Linked DNA regions of Homo sapiens: region 2 is linked to region 1. The links come from fine-mapping of genetic effects on gene expression. Tissue or cell type: thyroid. Region 1 holds a variant in brackets; the other region holds the start of a gene. All regions are shown on one strand. Distances are between the middles of the regions.

Region 1 (5,378 bases):
TTTCCAAGCAAAAAGAAAATGCAAACAAAAAACATATTGAACCTTCATTCTCCGATTACATTTTTCATGAAACATTGTCCAGTCTTAACTTTCAGAACATCAATCTCTTCTGGATTTCTCTCTGACTTGTCCTTCACAGGCAACCTTCTTCTTAATTCATTCCCTAAGATTGATAGGTCATTTTGTTCTCAGTCTACACACTACCCTATATAGAATCTAATTCCATTTGAACTACATACGTATACAACACCTAAGGCCACATATCCCACAACTCTACTTTCTGAACCTCGCCAGCTAGCTTCCCACAAGCTCCTCCTATGGACAGGACACATCTTCTACACCTGGCAACATTCAGACGTATCGTAGGGACCTTAGACACCAGAGACTAACTTCTCATCCCTCACCCTTAACCACTAAAGGGCCCACTCCGATGGAAGGACAAGGGGAAAGAACAGAACCAGGGCTTTATTTCACCCTTCCAAACAGTGAACTAAAGCAGAACGAATGCAAAGATAGGAAAGGGGAAGGGGAAGGGGAAGGGGAAGGGGAAGGGGAAGGGGAAGGGGAAGGAAAGGAAAGGAAAGGAAAGGAAAGGAAAGGAAAGGAAAGGAAAGGAAAGGAAACGAAAGGAAACGAAAGGAAAAGGGAGGGAGGAAGGGAAGGAAGAAGCAAGGAAGGAGCAGGTATAATTTCATTCTGCCATATTACAGCAAGCATAGTTCTTACTCTCAAAAACTGCGGCAGAGGATTGGCAGTCTTTGAGTCTTGGTTTTCATGCCCCAAGCACATACCCTGCCAACGGAGTGACCAAAAGGTGAGGCTCAGGATCCATTATTCTTTACTTACCGTGCCTGCTCTGACTTCCTCATTTTGAAATTAAGGACATCAAGAGCACCTACCTACCAGCCCACTTTCTCAGAGAATAAGACAAACCCAGGGTCACATGAGAAAACCACAGGTACTGTTCAATCCCAATTAATATTCTTCCACATTTTTTAATTGGTATCACTTTTTTTTTGGTCTTTGTAGAGGTATTAAAAGAATAAAGTTGTGGACACCTATGATGAAACATGAGTATCCCACAGGTGGCGCCGAATCTGGAAATAGGAGGTTCTTTGCTCACAAGTGGCCTGGACACCCAATTCTAGTGTCCTTATTTACTATGGAAGCATTTTTAATCATGCTGCCTCTTAAGAGATCCTCCCCCTTGGAAGAATGCTACTGAAATTATTCCCCTGCCCCTGGCAGGTTTCTGACTAAAAATTGGAAGCTATCCTCCCATTTAGACACTGCAGATGGCTTATTTGCATATTACGATTCTCCTAGTTGATGACTGTTTGGGGGGATTACGGGATGAAGCAGATGGGTGGACAAACTTTTTTTTAATGTACCACCCTGGCAAGTAACCAGGCTAATAAATAATCCCTAAATAATAAATTTTCAAAACAACTCCTAATGCATATTCATTAAAAGGTTACAAGCAACTGTTTATGAATGCAGAAATTTCCAAATGAAAAATAGGGAAATAGCCTGATTCTAGTTTTCCCAAAATTTACCTTTGGGAATAATCAAAAGAAGACAGATCTCCTGGCTCTGGAGGCAGAAATTAGCAACCTAAAGAACATTACACAAACTAGGAACATTCACTGTGGAAAACTGAGGCCAGAACAGTTATAAAAATTAAGGGTTGTAGAGCAACATTTTTATTGGGCAAAGTAGAAAAAGTCAAAAACTGCGGCACTTATGGCATACTGCAAGTGCAAAAGAGTTATCCTAGTTTTGCTCCCAAATCACCAGAAATTTTACAGTAAAATTTGTTTTTGTCCTGAGTGATCCATGTAATGGCTTTAACTCTCCACCACTTACCACATGAAGGCAGGTAATGTGCACACTGAAGAACACGCATCTTTTAGTGAGTCCTAGGTGCCCTCACAGCCATGAGCCAGGCTTTGGCACAAAAACTTCACCTCAAACTTGAAGTATCATCCTGACATCAATACTTTAAACAGAGTTAAAGAACATGATCTTGATCTCTCCTCTCTTATCTGATTATATCTGTAAAACTTCTTGGCAATATTCTGTATGAATCAGGCATTGATTCCAATAAAATAAAGACACAGGATACAAAGTCATCATATGATTGTGATCATGGGATATGTTACAAAAAGCAGGAATTGAATGAAGGTGCCACAAAAATCATCAGGACAATTCAACCCAATGGCTGATTAAGAGGCAGGTCTTGCACGTAGTTGCGGACATAAATTAGCACAGTCTTTCTAGAAGTTAATTTTGTGATATGTATGATTCGGAAATTGTAGTTCAGCTATACCTCCAAAGAAATAATCCTGCATATCAAAACTGTTTTATGCATAAAGACATTCATTGTAAAATTATCTACAATGAAGGAAAATGGCAACAATCTATACATTCACAGATTATTGATAACCCAAATCATGATACAACTACATTAGAAAGCTGTCTACAGGCATTGAAATTAGTCTTCAAAAGGGCATTAATATGACACAAATTTTACATGTTTTTCATACACGAAAACCACAGCAATCAACTGAAACTCTGTCAACATCTTTAAACGCTGGAAAACTTTCTCATGAACTACACATTATAAGTATTTTTTAAAAACTCATTTTCTGATAACTAAACTACCAGGGTATATTTGGTGAGCTTCAAAGCTACTGACTCCAAATATTTTGAAGATAATGCCCCTCTGCTTACCTCCCCCTTTCAGACCCCTCTGACATCACCAATCTAAAACATGCTCCTCATTCTTTCCTACTGTTCCTGGACTCACTGAAGGGCTCCATCATCTAGCAGGTCACTCATACCAAGATACCTAGGCTTTACCCTTGACTTCTCCCTCTCCCTCCACATTCAATCACCATGTCTGATAAATTCTATCTTGAAAAATCTTTCTGATGCCTCCATTTCTCTCCAATCCCATTGCTGGACTGCTTGACCAATTTGCTGGTGGCAAAAGCCACCAGTTTCTCATGCCCAGAGTACTGCACCAACCCTCTTCTGTCTGCCCTTCCAAACTAGCACAGTCAGTGGTTTGCCTTGGTTAGTAGTTGCATGTCTGCGAGCCCATTACTCATCTTCTCTGTGCTTCAGTCTCATCAGTTAAATGGATACAATAATAGTATCTACCTCATAGGGTTGTTGGGAGTAATAAATTAAGTAACATGCGTAAGCTGTTAAAACAGTGTCTGACACCTAAAAAGCACTGTGTAAGTATTTGCTATTTTTCCTTTTATA[C/A]ACTTGTTCCTCACTGGATACCCAGTGCAAAATGCAGTGTATGGTGCGTAGCAGATCCTCCATAAATGTTTACTGAATGGTTGTTTTAGGCATATACTGATCACATACCAGTAAGATTCAGGTCAGAGTATCTCTTAATGCTGCACTATCCTTATTTCTACCAGCTCTTCATAACAATGTGAAATGGAGCCTTGATTTAACTTCATGGGTTAATCTGAAAATAAAATGGCTCTAAAATTGAATTTTTTGAAATATAAAATTTTATAAAATCAGTTATTCCAACTACTTGTTTCCTGACCAATTTAAAAAAAATCATACTAAATTTCCAATCATCTGTCTGATTTTCTCAGAAAACTTCAAGATACTACATCACAGAATCAGAAATCAAAGGGAAAAGCATTTAACACTCCAGGCTGATGACAATGAATTCTAATGAGAGAATAAACTGGTACATTTCACAGTATATATGAAGAGTCTATTAAAAAGCCCCATTAAAACATTCTCTAAAGAAATAATCAGATATGGATAAGTATTTATACATAAATGTGTCCATGTCAATTTTCTATTGTGAAAAAATGGACAGAGCCTAAATGCCCAACAACAAAAGAATGTTTAAATAATTTATGGTTCACTCACTTATTTTATTTTATTTTTTTTTTGAGATGGAGTTTCACTCTTGTTGCCCAGGCTAGAGCGCAATGGTGACTCTTGGCTCACTGCAACCTCTGCCTCCCGGGTTCAAACGAATCTCCTGCCTCAGCCTCCCGAGTAGCTGGGATTACAGGTGCATGCCACCAAGCCCAGCTAATTTTTGTATTTTTAGTAGAGACGGGGTGTCATCATATTGGTCAGGCTGGTCTTGAACTCCTGACCTCAGGTAATCTGCCTGGCTCAGCCTCCCAAAGTGCTGGGATTACAGGCGTGAGCCACCATGCCCCACCTCACCTATTCTTTTAAATAGGTAGTCAGCCATTCAACAATCAGGTTTTTTGAAAATATTTAAGACAACAGGGGAAATTCTCAAATATAGTTGAGTAGGGAAGGCTGAAAGAAGGCTATAAGGAAATACATCCATGTACACACAGCAGCCCACTCCAGCTGTGGAGATGATGAATCACTTCCTTCTCTGTGCCAGAGTTCAAAGCCCAGCTCTGCCATCAACTAGGGGATCTTGAGCAAGTTACTATGCCACGGCTTCTGCACTTGTAAAGTAGGTATAATGGGATTCGTAAGATTAAATTAGTTACTGCACATAAAGTGCTGAGAATTGTATCTAGCGCACAGTTAAGTACCATACAGTTGGTTGATAATATTACTACTTTTTTGTACTTAAACTTTTCAAAATGATCTTATGTCATTTTTGGAATTTAAAAAAATCAATAAACGTTACTAAAAGCGCTGAATTTTTAAAAATAAGCCAACTTTGGACTTTTTCAGACGTTTCTCTCTTTCTCTCTCTCTCTTGCAAGGAGATGCTCTCCTCTCTCCTTTCTTCTATTAAACTTTCAACTCCTTAAACCACACACACACACACACACACACAAAATAAGCCAAATTTGGCAAAAATTTAGTTCAATATATAAGTTCACAATCTCTTCTCTGAAACCTTTGGGGACCAAAGTGTTTCCAAGTATAGAATGTTACAAACTTTAGAAGAGTGATACAGCATATTTACTAAATAAAGCCCCAAGCCAGGTCTAGGCCAGCACCCTACAGTCAAGCGCATTAACATTCACACAAAACCAGGTAAATAAAGACTATAAATACCTTTACATCAACACAGGCAAGGTTTTACTGCTAACTGAATTATGAAGAAACGTCACATTTTCCAGCGTTTTTTAAATTTCCAAACTATGAATAAGGGGTCATGAGTTTACTATTATCAAATGCTGGCACCATGGTGGCACCTCAGTCCAGAATGGCACATGGCTCACTTATGCTCCTCTCCATGTATGAAGAAAGTAACAATTTCCTAACTCTCCAACCCTGGTAGAATCCCATTAGAGAAGGGTATATCAATGGAGGTACTACTGACATTTTGGACTAGATAATTCTTTACTGAGGTATTTTTTTGTCCTGTGCATTGCAGGATGTTTAGCAGCATC
Region 2 (5,378 bases), 42 kb after region 1:
CTATAATCCCAGCTACTCAGGAGGCTGAGGCAGGAGAATCGCCTGAACACAGGAGGCAGAGGTTGCAGTATGCTGAGATCACGCCATTGCACTCCTGCCTGGGCGACAAGAGTCAAACTTTGTCTCAAATGAATAAATAAATAAACAAACAAACAAACCCAGGCTATATTATCCAGCACATCAGTTCTCAAAAGGAAGTAATTCTAGGTCTAAAGCTTCTCTGTAGATAACATCAGGTTCACGGACCTGATGGAAAAAAATGGCTACAAAAGTAGGACAGGACTATTTCTCTAATTTTTTTGTCACATGCAAACATTAACATGGGCTTTACATACTCTCCTAAATATACATATGCACAGAACAGTCACCTGTGCCTTAGACTTTCTAAGAGTGTGCTACACTAAATTATGGATAAGAGACTACGTGCTGCTTCACCTTTCAAATAAAAGGCTTTTCAGTAAAAGGAAGACAATGACGCAGTGATTCTGCATTTGGATTCGGTGTGATAAACATTAACCGTATCGCATCACATGCCGACCTTCTCCAACCTTTTAAGTTCTTTCCTAACGCAGTTTAAATTATTTTTTCTACACTTTAGGGCGACACAGAACTTCAAGATTTAGCGGAAATGGAGCGCTCTATTTTTTAAGTTGGAAAAACTAAAAGGTCTAGCTTGGGTAACTTCTTCACAGCATAAGGGATAGTATTTTATACTAATAAAAATATCCTTTATGTCAATAACTATAATTTATTGAACACTTTATACGTGTGTTCTACACACTCGTTTCTCTTCACCTCAACCCTGAAGAGACAACGGAAATTATCATCACTTCAGCATGGACAGGTTCAGAAGTTAAATACTCTCTCAAGGTCAGAAGCAGCAGAGGCAGGATTCAAACCTTAGCCTTTCCCACTCCAAAGCCAAGACTCTTAATTGCCTTTGAGGGCACTAAGCTTTGCAAAAGAAATCTTTAGAATCCAAGTGGAAAAAAGATGTGTTGGTAAACGCAGTGCTGAGATATGCTATAGAGAAGTGACCAGTAGAGCAATCAAAAAGGTTAGTAATATCGAAGAAGTCCTGCCACAGAATTCCTGGGCAGCACATATGCTTGGTTCTGTAAACCTGAAAGAACTTGCAGTATAAAGTTATTAGAAGCCTTCCAAACTACATCAACAAACAAATCACTTACTTTCATAAACATGTCTGGCAGAGAGGTCACAGATAACTCCAATTATAATAGAAAAGCAAAAATAATTACATTAAGAAACATTTTTACAGAAATAGTCTTACTTTTCTTGATTTCCTAAGTTGACAGGTATAATTGATTCTATAAAGGCAAGAATGTGTGATGAAGATGATGCAGATGCGTGCAAACACACACACGACGGGAATTACATGCTGCATCTGTCACCCTAAGTTAACCAAGGTTCTGTAAAACACAACCCTCACCTTTTCTGGATGTGGTTCATAACAAGGCTGCCACTGTGGTAGCCTAGGAAAAACCTCACTACTTCCGAGAAATTATGAGAAAGCTCGTTAATTAAGGCTAACCTATGAAAAACTATTTAACACCAAATCATGAAAAACATTTCGCGGTAAGTCATCAAAATCCTTAAAGATCCCATAAATTTGAACCTATTTCAGAAGGATAAAAAAGTAGTAATCACACACATTATGTAAGAAATAGGTCACAGCGTAAGTATTCGCTTACTTGCCCCTATGTAAAATTCTTTGAGTCCAATGATTTTAATTATTAGAATCTAAATTAATCAGTTTTATTACAGTCACAGCTTATTAACCCCATAAAGAAAAATGGGCACATCCAAGATGCCAAAGATTTATTAAAAACAATTTAAAATACATGATGATTTTAAGTCTTCAACAATTTGGTTGTTTTAGGGAAATATTTAAGACCCGCAGACTGTTTGTCATGCCCTGGCCTCAAAGGAGTTTCACGACCGAGTTCTCCAGGTAAAAGTTAATGTATGCGGGTCCCTAAAGGAAGACCCCAGCCTTCCATTCCCCTGGAGCCTGCGGGCGGCGGGGAAGGAGGGTTCTGACAACAGGGTAAGGGAGAGGAGCGCAAACCGCCGGCCTCCGCCCCGCCACCCCCAGTGCGGCCACCGCTCATGCCAACACATCCCGGGAAAGCCGGGTGCACCGACTCCGCAAGGTCACCCGTGAAGAGGCGACTTTACATAATCTCCCACCGCGCCGCCAAGGCACCTGCGCGCCGCGGCAGCAGTGCAGCCGCGGTCCCCTTCCTGCAGCACGGGCGCGAGATGATGCGGGGGCGGCGAGCAGCGCTACCAGGCAGGACGCCGGGGACCCGCGGGAAGGCAGCGCGCACCAAGCCGGGGGCGGGGGACCGAGGGTGGACGCCCAGACCGGGGATGCCCCGAGCCGCCGCCTTGGCTTGCGAGGCGGGGCGCGGCCGGCGCGGGCGAGGCTCGGTGCCGAACTCCCCAAGCTGCCGCCGGACGGCCAGCGCCGAGCGCGCCCCTCGCAGCTTCGCCCCGGACTGCCCCGGGACGCACCTGCCGCGCGCCTTACCTGAGTGGCTTTATGGAACTGCTTCTTGAGGCCGGCCACCGACATGGTGCAGGAGGCCGCGCTGGCGGCTGCTGTGCGGGAGGGAGGAGGCGGAGGGGGACTGGAGGGCCGAGCGGGGCGGCGCGCTCCCCTGGCCGCCTCTGGTCGTGCCGCCGCCGGGGCTATGGGCGCGAGGGCGCGGAGCCTAGCGGGACACGGGCTCTTGCGGAGAAACACTCTGACGTCAAGGGCGGGTGATGCGGCCTCTTAAAGGGGACGCGGGAAGCCCCGCCCCAAGCGCGGGAACGCCCAGGCAGGTGCTGTGGCGCGCGGTACCTGGATGCTGGCGCCAACTGCGGGGATGTGGCTCAGCGGCACCCGCTGGCGGATCCCTAGTCAGCGGGCCGAGGACGTCCTCCTGTCCCGGGGTTGGTGTTCCTGCCCCCGGGGGCTGCGGACGGGTCGCTGCAGATTGGCAGCCCAGGCACCCGCAGGACTCAGGTGACTTGCTGGGCTTCCAGGTAGCCGCGGCGGCGCTGCCTGCAGACGGCCCTCCTGCCCTTTGAGCCTGGCGTCTCTGCGCCGCAGCCTGAAAAAGACTGGCCTTCTATCTGGGCTAATGAATAAGTCATTGCTCCTTCTATGCCTTGCCCTGACTGGTGGGTCACAGAAAACATTTCTCTGCCCTGGTTTCAATATCCCTTAAGCCCATCTTACCTTAGGGAAAGTCACACACGCGTTTTCCCCCTTGTCTGATACAATTTAATGACTTAAAAAGAAGAACAGGAACCCTTAAGCCTGGACGGATAAATAGAATTGAAGTCTTACTACAAAACTAGCGTTCAATCCTCTGGTTACAGAAATGAAAAAGCCCAAATGTGATCTTGTTGTTATGCTTGTGGATTTAGGGTTTCCGGTCCGATAAAAATCAAAATATAATGTGAAAAAGCATGATACTAAGTTATATACAGATGCTTCATATGTAACCAAGGAGGTATGGCTGGCTAAAGTGAAACTAATAGATGACTTGGGAGCAGAGCAGCACTAAATGCCTTCTGTGCTCTGGTACTTAACCAAGTCTGGTTTTTCTAGGACTGAGGAGGTGGTCAGAAAGAACTTAGACGCTGTCCCCGTATGTGGACCAAAGTGATAAGAAGGAGAAGCCAAGATGGGAGAAATTGCCAAGGATGTGTAGAGACTGCAAGGCCAAATGGGAGTCCTAGAAATACTTTTTCTGTCTCCGCAACTCCTGCAGCCTGATAGGAGCCACAGACCCATCCCCACTCTTCTAGGCACTGCGGCTTGGGCACAGGGTGAACACCTGCTACAAAAGGGTCCTCCATCCGTAGAGCTACCAGTCATGGTCCTTCTTGATAATGTGAACTGACACACACAAAGGCAGAGTCAAGCAGTGGTGGGCACTGGAGCAGTAGAGCGCATGGACTAGGGACGCAGGCTGCAAAGGGAGGCAGATGAAAGGAGCTATTCTCCAGTGTGGTAGCCCTTACCACTGTTCATATACCTTTCCCTACATGGCAGAATTGCACTTTCCAAACCTCTTGTTAAGTGGAGGCATGGTTACAAGTTTTGACTAGAGGTTTAAGAGGAAAAGTGACTGTCACTTCTGCAGCAGCAATATGAGATGTATGAGATGCCGCAAAGCTTTCTTTTCCTCGGCCGCAATATTCTAGAAAGCTGTGGTCTGTCAGCCAGTATCCAGAGTGAGACTAAAGCAGTGCAGAGTCCCCACCTGACGTTCAATGGGCATGTAGCATCAGTGAGAAACCTGAGTAATTTTAATCCACTGAGGCTCCGGTTGTTAGGAATAAACTTTTTTCTCTATGTTTCCAATTTTTAAAAAGGCTACCCATTACTTGCATAATAGAAAAAAAAGTATTTTATAGTTAATTTTTACTACCAGGTCCCTGATCTGAACAATAAAGCATTTTCATAAGACAGGGCTTTGTTGAAGCTGCCAAAAGATAGAGCAATTGATCTACAAAGTGGAAGGGCCTGGGATGGATAGGAGCTCTGCTCTCTAACAGTGAAAGGTGTGAAATGGGGGCCTGAATTGCCTCCTTGGAACTTTGAATACTTAACTGAGCCCTACATTATAAAAAAGGCAGTTTCTATCTTTCCCTGGTTCTTCATCCACCAACCTGGAAGTCTCATGCTGCTTAACTTCAAAGAAACTACCTTGGGAGAAAAAAACTACTTAAGGGCATTACATTAAATCCTTTGGAAACCATTGATTTAGTCGCCCAGGCATCCTCTGCACCTCATCTTATATGGTTTGGCTGTGTCCCCACCCAAATCTCATCTTGAATTGTAACTCTCACAATTCCCACGTGTCGTGGGAGGAACCCAGTGGGAGTGATTGAATTATGGGGGTGGGTCTTTCCTACACTGTTCTCGTGGTAGTGAATGAGTCTTACAAGATCTGATGGTTTTAAAAACAGGAGTGTCTAGTTCAACCATTGTGGAAGTCAGTGTGGCGATTCCTCAGGGATCTAGAACTAGAAATACCATTTGACCCAGCCATCCCATTACTGGGTATATACCCAAAGGACTATAAATCATGCTGCTATAAAGACACATGCACACGTATGTTTATTGCGGCATTATTCACAATAGCAAAGACTTGGAACCAACCCAAATGTCCAACAATGATAGACTGGATTAAGAAAATGTGGCACATATACACCATGGAATACTATGCAGCCATAAAAAATGATGAGTTCATGTCCTTTGTAGGGACATGGATGAAATTGGAAATCATCATTCTCAGTAAACTATCGCAAGAACAAAAAACCAAACACCGCATATTCTCACTCATAGGTGGGAA

Evidence for each region.
Region 2: it holds the start of SH3GL2, and the variant in region 1 is fine-mapped to the expression of SH3GL2 in thyroid (GTEx, PIP 0.96).

What each region holds. Positions count from the first base shown.
Region 1 is chr9:17,618,232-17,623,609 of GRCh38, reverse strand. All of the region lies in intron 1 of SH3GL2 (SH3 domain containing GRB2 like 2, endophilin A1), which reads right to left. Among named protein-coding and RNA genes, the nearest start is that of SH3GL2, 42 kb to the right of the region's middle. The variant C/A (reference allele first, on the strand shown) is at 3,274.
Region 2 is chr9:17,576,464-17,581,841 of GRCh38, reverse strand. It overlaps SH3GL2 (SH3 domain containing GRB2 like 2, endophilin A1), which reads right to left and starts at 2,776. Exons shown (of 9, transcript NM_003026.5): 1 at 2,555-2,776. The coding sequence starts at 2,599. RefSeq lists a silencer at 3,766-3,964.